2 separate regions of the Homo sapiens genome follow, and region 1 is linked to region 2. Evidence: fine-mapped expression QTL. Tissue or cell type: whole blood. Region 2 holds a variant in brackets; the other region holds the start of a gene. All regions are shown on one strand. Distances are between the middles of the regions.

What was found. PIP is the estimated chance that this variant, and not a neighbour inherited with it, causes the effect.
Region 1: it holds the start of DTX2, and the variant in region 2 is fine-mapped to the expression of DTX2 in whole blood (TOPMed, PIP above 0.99).

What each region holds. Positions count from the first base shown.
Region 1 is chr7:76,458,089-76,466,189 of GRCh38, reverse strand. It overlaps DTX2 (deltex E3 ubiquitin ligase 2), which reads right to left and starts at 4,481. Exons shown (of 11, transcript NM_001102594.3): 1 at 4,354-4,481; 2 at 2,481-2,645.
Region 2 is chr7:76,505,314-76,513,414 of GRCh38, reverse strand. It overlaps DTX2 (deltex E3 ubiquitin ligase 2), which reads right to left. Exons shown (of 11, transcript NM_001102594.3): 11 at 7,424-8,041. The coding sequence ends at 7,814. It overlaps UPK3B (uroplakin 3B), which reads right to left and starts at 2,863. Exons shown (of 6, transcript NM_001347684.2): 1 at 2,678-2,863; 2 at 2,363-2,512; 3 at 1,533-1,758; 4 at 252-331. The coding sequence starts at 2,762. LOC124901675 (a long non-coding RNA gene) reads left to right here and starts at 2,682. Exons shown (of 2, transcript XR_007060388.1): 1 at 2,682-2,891; 2 at 3,307-5,234. RefSeq lists enhancers at 1-195, 196-847, 848-1,499, 2,253-2,825, 2,826-3,398 and a silencer at 4,276-4,481. The variant C/T (reference allele first, on the strand shown) is at 4,427.

The DNA.
Region 1 (8,101 bases), 47 kb after region 2:
GCCTCGGCGCACAGAATTTCGGGAGGCATTTGGGGAATGAATCAGGGCTCTTCTCTCTAGCCCATGGCCTCATTTCCTGTTGGCCTCTTAATACCTTCAACACGTCTGAGGCCAAACGCATCTTCCTTCCTCATTCTCCTTTTCCCCCTGGATTTCCCCCAGGCGGCCAAGAGAAAAACCTCAGATTCTCAGTCCTCCGCAGCCCGCTCCCCCAGGCCTAGCAGCTGCCTGCCCTGCTCTCTCCTCACCTCTGAAGCCCCCTGCTAACACCTGGCCGGGACCCTTATGCCTCTCACTTTACCCCCTCCCTGCCGGGCGCAGTGGCTCACGCCTGTAATCCCAGCACTTTGGGAGGCCTCGGTGGGTGCATCACCTGAGGTCAGGAGTTCGACACCAGCCTGGCCAACAGAGGGAAACCCCGTCTCTACTAAAAATACAAAAATTAGCCAGGCATGGTGGCAGGTGCTTGTAGTCCTAGCTACTTGGGAAGCTGAGGCAGGAGAATCACTTGAACCCGGGAGGTGGAGGTTGCAGTGAGCCAGGATGGCGCCACTGCACTCCAGCCTGGGTAACAGAGCGAGACTCCATCTCAAAAAAACAAAACAAAACAAAAAAACAAATAAGTGCTCCCTCCCAAACAGCTTCTCCAACTCTGCTTTCTAACCCTCTTGTACATCTCAGATGGGGGGGCAGAAAAGATTAAGCTTCCTGAACTAACGTTCTGATCTTGTCTTTTACACACCTCCCCTGGATCTCTAGAATGAAATTCAAATTCCTTAGGCTGACAGTCAAAGCCGATCACAATACCGCCCTTCCCTCGCTATCAACAATATTTGCCGGTGCCCTTCCCTTCCATCCCCTCATCTATACCTCCCTCTCCACAATTCCCTTCCAGAGTGTAAATGAGGATCCACTACTCCCATGTGCATCAGCGTGTCTGTCCCCACCCCCATGACTCTGCTTCACCCTGAATCCCACCCACTTGGTCCCCTGTCCTCACCTTACCCACCCTTTTATGGCCCAATTTAAACAGCACTTCCCACGATGCCTGGATGTGCCCAGCAGAAAGCAAACACCCTCTAAATCAGCCAGGCATGATGGTGTGCACCTGTAAGTCCAGCTACTCGGGAAGCTGAGGCACAAGAACCTCTTGAGCCTGGGAGGTGAAGTTGAGCAGTGAGCTGAGATTGCACCACCGCTCTCCAGCCTGGGTGACAGAGTAAGACCCTGTCTCAAAAAGTAAACAAACAAAACAAAACAACAACAACAAAAAGAATGAAAGAAAACACCCTCTTAGCAAGTTCCTTTTCAGTTCTCTATGTTCACTTTATCTCTTCAACTAGACTATAAGCAACTGAGGGCAAAACCACTCACCTGCCTCTCCCCACGAAGAAGCTGGCATGATGTATGTAAGAAGACCGCCACAAAGCGAATAATCCAGTCTAAACCCATTCCACATGTTCCAGTGTGCTCCATTAAAATGTCCCTCACGAGGCCAGGCACGGTGGCTCAGGCCTGTAATCCTAGCACTTTGGGAGGCTGAGATGGGAGGATCCCTTGAGGCCAGGAGTTAGAGACCAGCCTGGACAACGTAGAGCGGCACTGTCTCTAGATAAAATTATTAGTCGGGTATGGTGGTAGGCACCTCAGCTACCCCAGAGCCCAGGAATTTGAGGCTGTGGTGAACTATGATCACTCCACTGCACTCCAGCCTGGGCAGCAGAAGCAGACCCCAACTCAAAAAAATAATTAATAAAATGACCCTCATAGAAATCTCCTAAAATCCTTCCACTCCCGAGTCTTGGCATGGCCCACATAACCCTCCTCGCTCAGAGCCCTCTGCCTGCTTTTCCAGCCTCCTCTATTACATACTAAGCTACTTACAGTAGCCCAGCTGTGTCCCGGTAGCTTCATGACTTTGCAAACGCTGACTCCTCTCCCAGGTGACTGTGCCCCACTTTCTAAGTCCTACTCCTCCTTCACAACCCCCCTCAACTACCACCTTCCAGGAGCCTTCCTGACCTTCCCTCTAACCGTCCCCTTTCTGGATGTGGGTAGGAGAGCCTTGTGATTTCTCCCAGCTCAGTATATATCACACTGACAACACCTTGTCACTGACTCTGCTTTGTCTTTTCCACCAAACAATGCACTCCCAAAAGACAGAGATCTTATCTGGCACCCAGTAAGGGTTTATGCAACAAAAGAAATGAAAACTGCCACTTCAAATGCAGAAATCGTGACTTGTGTCTTCTATCCCATAAAGCATGTCTTAAAGTGGAAAGCATCTTCTAAGACTAGTTAGTTAAACAGGAGAAGCAGTGGCAAGACGCCACTGCAATTTATTTGAGACAGGTGGCAATCAACAGTCAACTCCCAGGGCACACGTTTATCCTGCAGACCTCAAATTCCACCCTCCCCAATCCCCACCTTCTCTGCACCAGATAGAGAAGGCAGCAAGGTCAAGTCCCCATGGCTCTCACCTTTTCTCTCTGGAGAGCTGGCACAAACTGTCCCTTCTGGATGAAGACACCAGCTCCTTAGGAGGAATGACTTGTTTGAGTTCCCATCTTGATACAAACCACAAACAACAAAAACCGGGCAAATCTGAAAGGCTTGCTGACTCAGCGACACAAATTCCAAGGCACCTTTGCCAACGAGGAAGAAGATGATCAGGTTTTAAATTAAGAAACAGCAGTTAGTAAAAACAAAGGTACAGATGTTGGATCCGTGTGCTGTGCCTGGGGACTGAAAATCACCAGATTTATTTTCCAATAGCCTGGGTGGAGCAGGAGGTACAACAGTCTTCCTCCACCCACTTAACAATCAAGGAGATGGTTGAAGAAACAACAAAAAGCAAACAAACAAAAAAACCCTGAGCTCTTTTTAAAATTTTTTATTATTATTAGTTTTTGGAGACGGAGTCTTGCTCTGTCACCCAAGCTGGAGTGCAGTGGCGTGATCTCGGCTCACTGCAGCCTCCGCCTCCCAGGTTCAAGCTACTCTCCTGCCTCAGCTTCCCGAGTAGCTGGGATTATAGGCTCGAGTCACCACGCCTGGCTCTGAGCCCTTTTCTTAAAAAAAAAAAAAAGTTCGTTTTTTTAGTTTGTTTGTTTTTTGTTTTTTGAGACGGGGTCTCCCTCTGTCGCCCATGCTGCAGTGCAGTGGTGTGATCACAGCTCACTGCAGCCTCCAACTCCTGGGCTCAAGCGATCCTCCTGCCTCAGCCTCCCAAGTAGCTGGGACTACAGGCACCCACCAACACGCCCATCTGATTTTTTATAGAGACAGTGATCTCAGGAATCCTCTTCGTTTCCCAGGCTTGTCTCAAATTCCTGGACTCAAATGATCCTTCCACCTCGGCCTCCCAAAGGGCTGGGATTACAGGCATGAGCCACCGTGCCTGGCCTGAGCCCTTTTACAGAAAACTCTAAAAGGACTTCATAAGCCAGTCTGGCAGCTAAGCATCCAGGAAATCAACACACCAGAGAGGGTAAATATTTAAGGTCACAGAGCAACCGAATCAGAGGGCTTGCTATCCGGATGGCTTAAGCCCGGATGGTGGCTACCAGAAAGTCTACCTTCTAGAGCGCTAGAGGAGCTAGGAAGGCATGCAGAAATATTCTGAGTTTCTCAAGGGTCCAGGCGTCTGTACACATGCTATTTATTTCCATCGCTGTTGGCGCTTAGAGAAGTGGAGCCAGCTTGGAGGAGGAGGGCAGCTGGCTGAGACAGTCGCGATGAAAGCGCAGCTCCAGAAAAGGGAACCGAGTTCTAAATCTTTTTCGGCACCCCTTACGCACCCCAAAAAGTGACCCAGGGCCCCAGGAACTCCTGGGAAGACCCCCCACAGGAAAGCAGGGAAGCAGAGTTAGGAAGCAAACTCCTCCAAAGTACAACCCCCGGCCCAGTGAGTCCCTTCACCTGGGGGTAGACCCCAGCAGGACCAACCCCTCGTCAGGGAGCCGGTGGCAATCTCGTCACCCCCTCCTCTGGGTACTTTGGGAAGGGGTGCGCGCCTTCCGAGCGACCCGGAACCGCGCCCCTCCGCCTGCGAGCCCCTCAGCCTTCATCCGAACGTCCCCTTTCGCACCCGGCACCCTGTCCCGTCCAAAGCTGCCGGCGCCTCCCAAGTCCCCCAACTCTCGCCCTCAGGACCTTGATCCCGGAGACCGATCCCCCCGACACCCCCGATCTCCCGGGACCCCCGGGTGTCCCCGCCGCCCCGGCCGTCGGTCCCCCTCACACCCACGCCCGCCCCCTTCCGGTCCCAGCTAGGCTCCGGCTCCCCGCGCCACCCCGCGCCCCTGGGACCGCAGCCCTAGCGACGCGCAGGTGGCCTTCCCGCCCTCTCACCGAGGCTGAGGAGGACAAGAGGACGGGGCTGAGGGCACCACCGCGCTCGGGCTGCAGCTCCGGCTCGGCCTGGGCAGGGCTCTGGCTGTGGCTCCGACTCTCAGGAGAAGGCAGCCAGAGTGAAACTCGGCGTCGCAGCTTCCGAGCGAGCCGCTGCGCATGCCCGGGGCGTGCGGCCTTCTGGGAAATGTAGTCCCGGTAGGGCCCAGGGGCGGGCAGAAGGCGGGGCTCAGCGGGGAAGGGCTCAACCCAAGGCGCACCTGCTCCGGTCTATGTTTTCTTCCTTCGCCTGCTCACTCATTGACTTATTCCTTCATTAATTACTGACTTAATTTTAACTAGTTTTTACTAGTACATACATGGTGCCAGTACATACATGTGCTACTGTTTCTCTTTTTTTGTTTTTAAAATTAATTTTATTTTTCTTTTTTGTACAGATGGGGGTTTTGCAATGCTGCAACGTTGCTCAGGCCGATCTCAAACTCCTGGCCTCAAGCGATCCTCTTGCTTCATTCAGCCTCCCAAAGCACTGGGGTTGCAAGTGTGAGCCATCGAGCACAACCTTTTTAAATTTAAATTTTTGTCTTTTTCTTTTCTTTTTTTCTCTCTTTCTTTCCTATTTATTTTTAATATTTATTTATTTATTTAGCTACTGTGTAGTGGGAGTGCGGGAGTGAATAGGTGAATCAGAAATGGTTTCTTGGCTGGGCGCAGTGGCTCATGCCTGTAATCCCTGCACTTTGAGAGGCAGAGGTGGGCGGATCACCTGAGGTCGGGAGTTCCAGACCAGCCTGGCCATCATGGCGAAACCCCGTCTCTACTAAAAATACCAAAAAAAACTAGCCGGGCGTGGTGGCTCGTGCCTGTAATCCCAGCTACTCGGGAGGCTGAGGCAAGAGAATCGCTTGAACCCGGGAGGCAGAGGCTGTAGTGAGCCAAGATCGCGCCATTGCACTCCAGCCTGGGCGACGGAACAGGAATCCCTCTCAAAAGAAAAAAAAAAAAAGACGAAGAAGAAGAAAAAAGAAAAAGAAAAGGTTTCTCGCCGGGAGCGGTGGCTCACGCCTGTAATCCCAGCACTTTGGGAGGCCGAGGCAGCCAGATCACAAGGTCAAGAGATTGAGACCATCCTGGCCAACATGGTGAAACCCCGTCTCTACTAAAAATACAAAAATTAACTGGGTGTGGAGGCCGGGCGCAGTGGCTCACGCCTGTAATCCCAGCACTCTGGGAGGCCGAGGCGGGCGGATCACGAGGGCAGGAGATCGAGACCACGGTGAAACCCCGTCTCTACTAAAAATACAAAAAAAAAAAAAAATTAAGCGGGCGTAGTGGTGGGCTCCTGTAGTCCCAGCTACTCGGGAGGCTGAGGCAGGAGAATGGCGTGAACCCGGGAGGCGGAGCTTGCAGTGAGCCGAGATTGTGCCACTGCACTCCAGCCTGGGTGACAGAGCGAGACTCCGTCTCAAAAAAAAAAAAAAATAATAATAATAATAATAATTAACTGGGTGTGGTGGCGCGTGCCTGTAATCCCAGCTACTTGGAAGACTGAGGCAAGAGAATCACTTGAACCCTGGAGGTGGAGGTTGCACTGAGCCAAGATTGTGCCACTGCACTCCAGCCTGGACGACACAGTGGGAATCTGTCTCAAAAAAAAAAAAAAAAAAAAGAAAGAAAAGAAAAGAAAAGAAAGAAAGAAGAAAAGAAAAGGATTTCTTTCCTGGGAAAGCTTTGTATCTAGTTGGAAAGTCCGGCACTTAAACACACAATTACGATATAGTGGGGAAAATGTTTGGATAAAGGAGGGCATAGAAGGGTATGCCTAACTTGAGGGTGGGGAGAAGACATCACAAGACAGATAAAGGCTATGTGGGTTTTTCAGTCCATAGAGAAATTTGCCAGTTGGAGCATAGGGAAGCTCTTGTAAAGCAAGAGAGATGTGAAAGTGCCTCATGCACTCCGGAGGCAGCACAAAGTTCCTGGTGGCCAGGGCAGAGGACACATGGAGGGAAGGGAGTGAGGAAGGAGAAAATGCACTAGGCTATAGCAGGATCTGAGGAGTGTGGGGAGAAGCCGGGGTAAGATTATGATGAATTTTAGATAATGTGAGTGTTTGCACATGTGTGCACATACTATGTATGTTGAATATTATGTATACAGTTTCAGGGGGATCAAGGTCCTCTGAATCTTGGAGGACCAAGTACCCAGTTAAAGATACTTACCTGGAATGACATTATCCTAAGGTCATTGATCCTTTATCAGGGATTTTTATTTTCCTTTTTTTTTTTTTTGAGACGAGTTTTGCTCTTGTTGTCCAGGCTGGAGTGAAATGGCACAATCTCGGCTCACTGCAACCTCCGCCTCCCAGGTTCAAGTGATTCTCCTGCCTCACCTCCCGAGTAGCTGGGATTACAGGCATGCACCACCACACTCAGCTAATTTTTGTATATATATATATTTTTGAGACGGAGTCTTGCTCTGTCGCCCAGGCTGGAGTGCAATGGCACAATCTCAGCTCACTGCAAACTCCGCCTCCCAGGTTCAAGCAATTCTTCCTCAGCCTGCCGAGTAACTGTGATTACAGGCGGATGCCACCATGCCCAGCTAATTTTTGTATTTTAGTAGAGACAGGGTTTCACCATGTTGGCCAGGCTGGTCTTGAACTCCTGACCTCGTGATCTGCCCACCTCGGTCTCCCAAAGTACTGGGATTACAGATGTGAGCCACCGCATCCGGGCTAATTTTTGTATTTTTAGTAGAGACAGAGTTTCACCATGTCAGCCAGGCTGATCTCAAACTCCTGACCTCAGGTAATCTGCCCACTGCAGCCTTCCAAAGTGCTGGGATTACAGGTGAGGGCCACCGCATCCGGCCAGAGTTCCATTTTTAAAATCTGAAAAGACGGACTATTTTTATTTGGGAAAAATAAAGAGTTCTGGTTGTGAAAAGAAGTAAAATAGGACAGTATCAAGAGGGAGAGTGGGGGGCATGGACTTTTGTATTTTAGACAGGAGAGAGAAGAGTGTGCTGACTTCTGAAATTGCAGCAGGATGTCTGCCCCCTGGGAACCTGGAAATGAGGGAAACAGGCTTGGCCACTTGCAAAGTGAACTTTAAACTAATATACGTAGCAAAGGGCCAGAGACAAAAGAACTGCCTGGTAGGAGGGGGCTGGTTAAATAACCCCGGAACACTAGGTAGCCCTAGAAGGAATGAGGAAGACTCACAGTGGCCTAGATCTATTGTTAAACCAAAAAGGAACTTTGAGCCAGGCAAGGCGGCTCATGCCTATAATCCCAGCACTTTGGGAGGCGGAGGCAGGTGGATCACCTGAGATCAGGAGTTCAAGACCAGTCTGGCCAACATGGTGAAACCTCGTCTCTACTAAAAATACAAAAATTAGCTGGGTGCAGCGGTGCACACCTGTAATCCACCTACTCGGGAGGCTGAGGCAGGAGAATCGCTTGAATCTGGGAGGCAGAGGGTGTAGTGAGCCAAAATTGCACCATTGCACTAGCCTGGGTGACAGACTGAGACTCGGTCTGAAAAAAAGAAAAAAAAGGAACGTTCAAAATAGAGGGTAGAGAATATGAGAATATGCACCCATTTGTGTTTTTTAAACAATTGCATACAATAAACGGGCTTACAGACGAAGAAAGTTTCTGGGAAGAGACCCAAGAAGCCCCAGAAGGTAGGCGGATAAGCTGAAGAATTGTTAAAGATTTTATTTATTTATTTTTTGAGACAGT
Region 2 (8,101 bases):
AGGAGGGGGGAGGCTGTCTGTGCCCACAATGTGGCAAACGCTTGCGGATGGGCCGAGATGGTGCCCCTGCCGAGGGGGCTGGCTGGGTGCCCCACTCCCCCAGCATGAGGTTCTGTTGGGGGCTGGGCCCGACTTGGACATGGCCTCCAGGCCCCCAGCCCTGTGGGAGCAGGGGTGTGGCCAGCTCAGCAGAGGCGGCCCAGAGAGATCGTGAGTCCACTGGGGGCAGCGCCCCTCCTGCCCAGCGCTACCTTGGTGGAGAGTGATGGGGTCTGACCACTTGGTCTCAGCCCTGGGTGAGCCCCTGGTGTCCATCAGGAGGAACTTCACCCTGGGGATGGGAGGTGGTGGGGGAGGAGGGGAGAGCTTCAGAGGCTGGGACCACCCTGGGCAGGGCCAAGCCCCAGGCAGCTCCTCTGGGGCCCTCCCATGGATGTGGAGTGGGGGTGCCCGTCAAGAGCAGCAGCCCATGGCCTGGCCCTGCTCTGAGAATCCCCTGAGATGTCTCCAGCCACTTGGCCTGTGCCACCACCCCTCATCCCCCCGAGCAATTGCTCTCCAGACACCAGACCTGGGCCGGGGATGCTGGTTTAGGGGCCCTGGTTCCTAAATGTCACAAGCCAAAAGAGCAGGTGAAGGTGGCTTAGCAGGGCACATGGGGCAGGGGTCACAGGCCTCCCAGAGGGGCAGCAGTAGCCGGGGGCAGGGGGCTCAATCACCAGCAGCCTGAGGACCCAGGGCACCAGGAGCCCCGCAGAGGGCCTCGGTTTGTCTCTTTGCAGGGCTGGGAGCTCTGCAAGGCCTGGGAAGCGGGGAAGGACCTGGCAGGTTGGCATTGAAAAGAGTGGCTGCGGGGGATGGGGCGGGGCATGGAGCTGGAAGGCTGAGCCAGGGTGAGGCAGCGGGGAGGGCAGAGGGTGGACCTGGAGAGTGGGTGAGAGGGCAGAAGGGGGCTGGGCGGAGCGGGGTGCTGTTCCAGCCTCACCACGCCCTGCCTTCCCGGCTTCCCCTGGGCCTGGTCTTCCTGAGGTCACCCCGCCTCCTCCTGTGTCCGGACAGTCCTGACCTGGACACACTGCCTGCTTCCCCATCCCGGCTCCACCCCGATGTTGGCAGGCCACTTGACCTCCTGTGCCTCAGTTTCCTCATCTGTAAGAGCGGGTAGGAGCCACCTCTCCTGCTCCCTGCCTAATACCGACGAGACTGGGTCTGAACTCGGCCCCCGAGTTTCCTGCCAGATCTGCCCGTGGTGGGGGACAGGGGCCTAGACTTTGGGGAAGCTGCCCCCTCCCACCTTGACTAAGATCCCGCCTCCCCAAGGTGCCCACCTGCTCCTCCTGGGCCTTGCCCGGCCCCAGCGGGGGTGAGCACTGTTGCTGACTCTACAGTGGAAGGAGCCCGGGCTTGCAAAGGGGAGGACCGGGGCCGGGGACCCCTCCCTGGAAAGATGCTAGAGAGAGCATCCCTGGTCCCAGCAATGCGTCCGCCCCAAGCACAGCCCCAGTCCCAGGGCTCCGGTGGGGACCACCCACCGATAGGGTCCAGGGCCAGGGAGGGGCGCGTTGCAGAAGGGCTGCTGGTGGCAGCCGTGGTCATGGCCCACCCGCAGCACGGGGGCGCCTCCGCTGCCCGCCATGGGGTCGCCACAGGGCAGCTGGTCCGGAGACAGGGGCAGCGTCATGTAGTGGCCATCGGTCAGCAGCTGTGGGGAGGCCGGAATGTCAGCCAGTGTCTCCGGGTTCTGGAAGCCCCTGGAGGCTGCAGGAGGAGAGAACAGATGGAGGTGGGAGGGGAGAAAGCAGCTTTGTCCTTATGAGTGGGGGTTCTGTGTTCGCCCAGTCTCCAGCCCTGACCCCCCATGCCACCTCCTCCCTCAGGGCCCCCAGAGATAGTCCAGACCCAGTCGACTTTGTTACCCCTGAAGGGGAGCTTCCCTCTGGCCTTTTGTCCCCACCCAGAGCCAGGAGTGGGGAGCAGCGGGCAGTCCCAACCTGCCCAGCCCCAGCCCCAGCCCCATTGCAGTGCACCGGCCCTGCCCCACAGGAGGCCACATCCTCCCAGGTCGCAGCCTCGGTTCCCTGTCCAAAGGAAGAACTACTTGGATTCAGAGAAAGGGTTGCAGAGCCCTTGACAGCTGACAAACCCACCACTAGCACTACTCCCGGGATTTGGTGTTCACTACGTGTGTATTTTTCAATACACATATTACCCCTTTAGATAAAGCCCAATTCATCCACACCTACTCTCCCAAAGGCCCCCACAGGGGCTCAATCATTGAAGGCGCTTGCTGGTGAGGGGCTCCTAGGGCCCACCACTCTCCTCAGCCGTCACCCTCACCCAGGCCCCACAGCAGTCCCCGTACCATTGCTGAAGGCCACCACGAGCCAGACGGTATCGCTGGCGCTGGCAAGCCCATCGAAGACACAGCGCGGCTGCTCCAGGGAGAAGGTGGTGGCTGTGACCTTCCCTTCCAGGTCCCAAGCTGTTATCTGTGGTGTGTAGGGCACCAGCTCTGTGGCCACGGGGGACAAAAGGTGAGCCACGGAGACGGGCGTGGGGGTCCCTGGGGCTGCCTCTCCCAATCGGAGGGGGGCGGGCGCCCAGGGTCCAATCACTCCAGCAGGGCCCCCAGCCCCTTGGGTCTGGCTGGACGCGTCCATCCAGGACCCCCACTCACCCAGGCTCAGGCTGGGCCGGAGACAGTTCAACGCCAGGAGGAGCATCTGCAGCCCTAGGTGAGGCTGCCCCCAGGGTAGCCCCATGACAGCTGCCAGCACCCGGGAGGCTCAGGGGCTGGTCTGGCTGCTTCGGGCTGCACCTCACCCCCAACAGCTTGGCCCTGGAGAAGCTGGTTAATCAGGCTGCCCCAGGGGCTGGAAAGACCTGCAAATGTAAGTGCACCCCACCCCCTTCCTCCCAGGCCAGCCCACAGCAGGGAGGAGCTGGGGGGACTCTGGTGGGAGGCAGGCCAGTATCCAGCCCCACTGCCAGGGCCAAGGGAGAGGGGCCACTGGAACCCCAGATGCCAGCCAGGCCATCCCGGAGCCTGGATTGGGGCCCCTCCCAGTCTCTCCGCCCTGGGGAGGAGGGTCTGGCTTTTGGAAACAGGCTCAGGACCACATGCCTGAGATTCCTGTGCCCCAGGTGCCAGGAGCCTCCCTCTGCCTTCTGTCCCCACCCAGAGTCAGGAGTGGGGAGTAGCAGGCAGCCCCAACCTGCCCAGCCCCATCCCCATCACAGCACGCTGGCCCTGCCCCCCACGAGGCCACATCCTCCCAGTTCGCAGCCTGGGTTCCCTGTCCACAGGAAGAAGAACTTGGATTCAGAGAAAGGGCTGCAGAGCCCTTGACAGCTGACAAGCCCGCCACTTAAACACTACTCCCGGGATTTGGCGCTCACTATGTGTGTATTTTTCAAGACATAACTCACATACCTTCACAACCTTCACAGCTCAGTGGCTTAAATATATATATGTCACCCAGGGAGGTCAGTTCACAGCTAACTGGAGCCTCAAACTCCCAGGTTCAGTTAATCCTCCCACCTCAGCCTTCCCAGTAGCTGGAACCACAGGCACACAACACCATGCTCCGGCTAATTTTTAAAATTTATTTAATTAATTTTTTTTTAAGATGGAGTCTCCTTTGTTGTCCAGGCTGGAGTGCAGTGGCGTGATCTGGGCTCACTGCAACCTCCGCCTCCTGGGTTCAAGCGATTCTCCTGCCTCAGCCTCCCAAGTAGCTGGGATTACAGGCATGTGCCCCACGGCCAGCTAATTTTTGTATTTTTAGTAGGGACGGGGTTTCACCATGTTGGCTTGGCTGGTCTCAAATTCCTGATCTCAAGTGATCCACCCGCCTTGGCCTCCCAAAGTGCTGGGATTACAGGCATGTGCCACCGTGCCTGGCACCCCCGCCAATTTTTTTTTTGTTTTTTTTGAAACGGAGTTTTCACTCTTGTTGCCCAGGCTGGAGTACAATGGCTCGATCTTGGCTCACCGCAACCTCCACCTCCTGGGTTCAAGTGATTCTCCTGCCTCAGCCTCCTGAGTAGCTGGGATTACAGGCATGTGCCACCACACCTGTCTAATTTTGTATTTTTAGTAGAGATAGGGTTTCTCCACGTTGGTGAGGCTGGTCTCGAACTCCTGACCTCAGGTGATCCACCCACCTCAGCCTCCCAAAGCGCTGGGATTGCAGGTGTGAGCCACTGCGCCCGGCTGGCCAATTTTTAAAAATGTATTTTTTATAGAAACAGGATCTTGCTATGTTGCCCAGGCTGATCTCTAACTCCTGGGAGGATCAAGCAAATCTCCTGCCTTGGCCTCCTAAAGTATTGGGATTACAGGCGTGAGCCACCGTGCCTGGCTATTTTTTTTTTTTTTTGAGACATGGAGTCTCACCCTGTCGCCCAGGCTGGAGTGCAATGG[C/T]GTGATCTCTGCTCACTGCAACCTCCACCTCCTGGGTTCAAGCAATTCTTCTGCCTCAGCCTCCCTAGTAGCTGGGACTACAGGCACCTACCACCATGCCCAGCTAATTTTTGTATTTTTAGTAGAGATGAGGTTTCACCAACTTGGCCAGGCTGGTCTCGAACGCCTGACCTCGCGATCTACCTGCCTTGGCCTCCCAAAGTGCTGGGATTACAGGCATGAGCCACTGCGCCCAGCTGCTAATTTTTAAAAATATAGTTTTTGAGGCTGGGTGTAGTGACTTACGGCGGTAATCCCAGCACTTTGGGAGGCCGAGGTGGGCAGGTCACTTGAGGTCATGAGTTCGAGACCAGCCTGGCGAACATGGTGAAACCCTGTCTCGACTAAAATTACAAAAATTAGCCGGGTGTGGTGGAACGTGCTTGTAATCCCAAGTACTCGGGAGGCTGAGGCAGGAGAATGACTTGAACCCGGGAGGCGGAGGTTGCAGTGAGCTGAGATCGCACCACCGCACTACAGCGTGGATGACAGAGTGAGACTCTGTCTCAAAAAAAATATAATAAAAATATATTTCTTGTAGAGACAGGGTCTCACTGTGTTGCCCAGCCTGGTCTTGAACTCCTGGCTCAAGGGATCCTCCTGCCTCAGCCTCCCAAAGTGCCCAGATTACAGGCATGAGCCACAGCGCCCAACAGCTTTTAGTATATCAACAAGGTTGTGCAACCATCACCAATTCCAGAACCTTCTTACTTCCCCAAAACGAAACACTACACCCATTAAACGGTAACTCTCCATTCTCCCGTCCCCAGTGACGACTAAGCTACTTCTTGTTTCCATGGTTTTGCCCGTAATGGACATTTCATAGGATGCAGTCACACAACATGTGACCTTTTGTGTCTGGCTTTTGTTACTTTTTCAAGGTTCCTCCTCGACTGTGATTGCTTCATTCCTTTTCACAGTTGAGTAATATTCCATCCTGTGAACGTATCACACTTTCATTCATCAGTGGATGCAGAATTTGTTTTTTTCCACTGTGGGGCTACTGTAAATAATGCTGCCATGAGCATCCGTGCGCAGGCTTCTGTGGGCACATTTTCAATTCTCTTGAGAATGTACCTAGGAGTGGAACTGTGGTCATATGCTAATGCTGCTTTCTGAGGTTCTGTTTGCCAAAGTGGCTGCATTTTACATTCCCAGTAGCAGTGGATGAGGGTCCCATTTCTCGACATCCTCTCCAACACTGCTTTTTGTTTTAGTATAGCCATCGTAATGGGTGTAGTGTGGCATCTCATGGTTTTGTTTTTATATATATTTTTTGAGACGGAGTCTTGCTCTGTCGCCAGGCTGGAGTACAGTGGCGTGATCTCGGCTCACTGCAACCTCTGCCTTCCGGGTTCAAGCAATTCTCCTGCCTCAGCCTCCCAAGTTAGCTGGAATTGTAGGTGCACACCACCATGCCCAGCTAATTTTTGTATTTTTAGTAGAGGGGGTTTCACCACGTTGGCCAGGCTGGTCTCGAACTCCTGACCTTGTGATCCTCCCGCCTCAGCCTCCCAAAGTGCTGGGATGACAGGCCTGAGCCACTGTACCCGGCCAACACTGGGGTCTTCTAGAGAGACCTCACTACCCTTTTTACCCTGGACCAACTTACCATTAGGCACAGTGCCCTGGGCCCACACTATAAGAGCTGACATACATTTTTAATTTCTTTTAAAATCAGAAGGGAAAAAAATGAACCTTTAGGTGAGAGAAAATCCTCTAGTATACATTAATATATTCATCTTTATACCAACATGTTGTAAAATAGGTTTAACAGAGAAAGGGGCTCACCAAGGCCAAAGTGCCTCTGCTTTCCACAGCCATGAATGAGGTGGCCCTACCGTCCCCCTCTGGTCCCAGGCCCAAACTACTCCTCCCGGACAAGCAGCAAGATCTTGACTGGGGATATCTGATCCTCCTTCCAAGAGGAGGAAGAATTAGAACTTTGAGAATGGTGTCAGATCAACCCTGGCCTGGATTCCACCTACCTAGCCAAGCATTCAATCTGTCTCTTTTTATTATGATTTTACAGATGGGATCTTGCTCTGTTGCCCAGGCTGGAGTGCAGTGGTGCAATCATAGCTCACTGCAGCCTTGAGCTCCTGGGCTCAAGCGATCCTCCCGCCTCAGCCTCCCGACCGCTGGGACTACAGACAGGTGCCACCATGCCTGGCTTATTTATTTATTTTTTTGAGACGGAATCTCGCTCTGTGGCTCAGGCTGGAGTGCAGTGGCACGACCTTGGCTCACTGCAACCTCCACCTCCCAGGTTCGAATGATTCTCCTGCCTCAGCCTTCTGAGTAGCTGGGATTACAGCTGCATGCCACCACGCCTGGCTAATTTTCGTATTTTCAGTAGAGACGATGTTTTGCCATGTTGGCCAAGCTGGTCTCAAATTCCTGACCTCAGGTGATCCACCTGTCTCAGCCTCCCAAAAGTGCTAGGATTAGAGGCGTGAGCCACTGCACCTGGCCTAATTTTTTTTTTAGAGATGAGGTCTTGCAATTTTGCTCAGGCTGGTCTCAAATGTCTGGACTACAGTGAGCCTCCTGTCTCGACCTTCTGAGCAGCTGGGATAACAGGCATGCGTCACCATGCCTGGTTCAAGTCATTGCACCTTTGAACCTGTTTCCACATCAGTAAAACAGAGACAGCAGCTCCAATCCTAAGTGAATGGCATTTTGTGAACCACAACCCCAGGGCCACAAAGGTGACAGCTGGTGCTCTGGGGTGACAGCCTCTGGCATGGCAGGGAGATCAGTGTAGGGCATGTGGAGGCCGCACAGCCCAGTACCGTGGGCTCCTCCATGCCTGGCTGTGGCCTGTTCTTCAGTTATCAAATGGGAGCCGATGAGCCCATGGAACCCCCTCTTGCTCTGATGCAGGAAGTGGGGGGGGGCACACACACACACAAGTGCGCACACACGCATGCATGCACACACTCAGGACCTGCTGGCTTTGGCTATAGAGCATTTATTGCAAACAAAATTGAGGTAAAAGAAGCTGACCCAGAACCCACGCCCGTCCAGGCTGGGGAAGTCTCTACTCGCCCCACACCAGGCCCCGAGCACCGCGGGCCCGAAGCAGCCCCCAGAGGACAGACGGGCCCTGCGCACTGAGGTAGCTGCATCCTAAGCCCCCATGAGTACAACTGCCCAGGGCTGCCCAATTCCCAGAGGGGAGGAGGAGAGAGAGGCAGGCAGGGGGAGCCCCGGCTTCAGGTGGGGCACACCCCACACCCTCAACAAACCTCCCAGCCTCTCGGGCTGGGCACTTCCTGCCTGGCCACCCAGCCAGCCATGGGGCAGCGGGGTGGCCACCAGAGGCGGGCGTGCTGGGGTGCGAGGTCACTGCTGCTCCAGGCAGTCCTCGGTCACCCCCTGGGCAGCCAGCTCAGCCAGCACGTTCTGCAGGTAGTTGGGGTCGGGATAGCCGTGGCCCGTAATGTTGCGGTCCATCTCTGTCTTGTGGTGGATCTCGTTCCATACCACGGTGTCCGTCTCACCCGTGGTGCTGGACGTGCCCACTGTGAAGATGAGCCGCCTCTTCCAGGCCACCTTCAGGAGCTCTAGGACCTGCCCGGGGAGGAGGAGGGGGAAGAGGAAGGAGGGGACGGAGAGTGAGAGGGGCTCAGT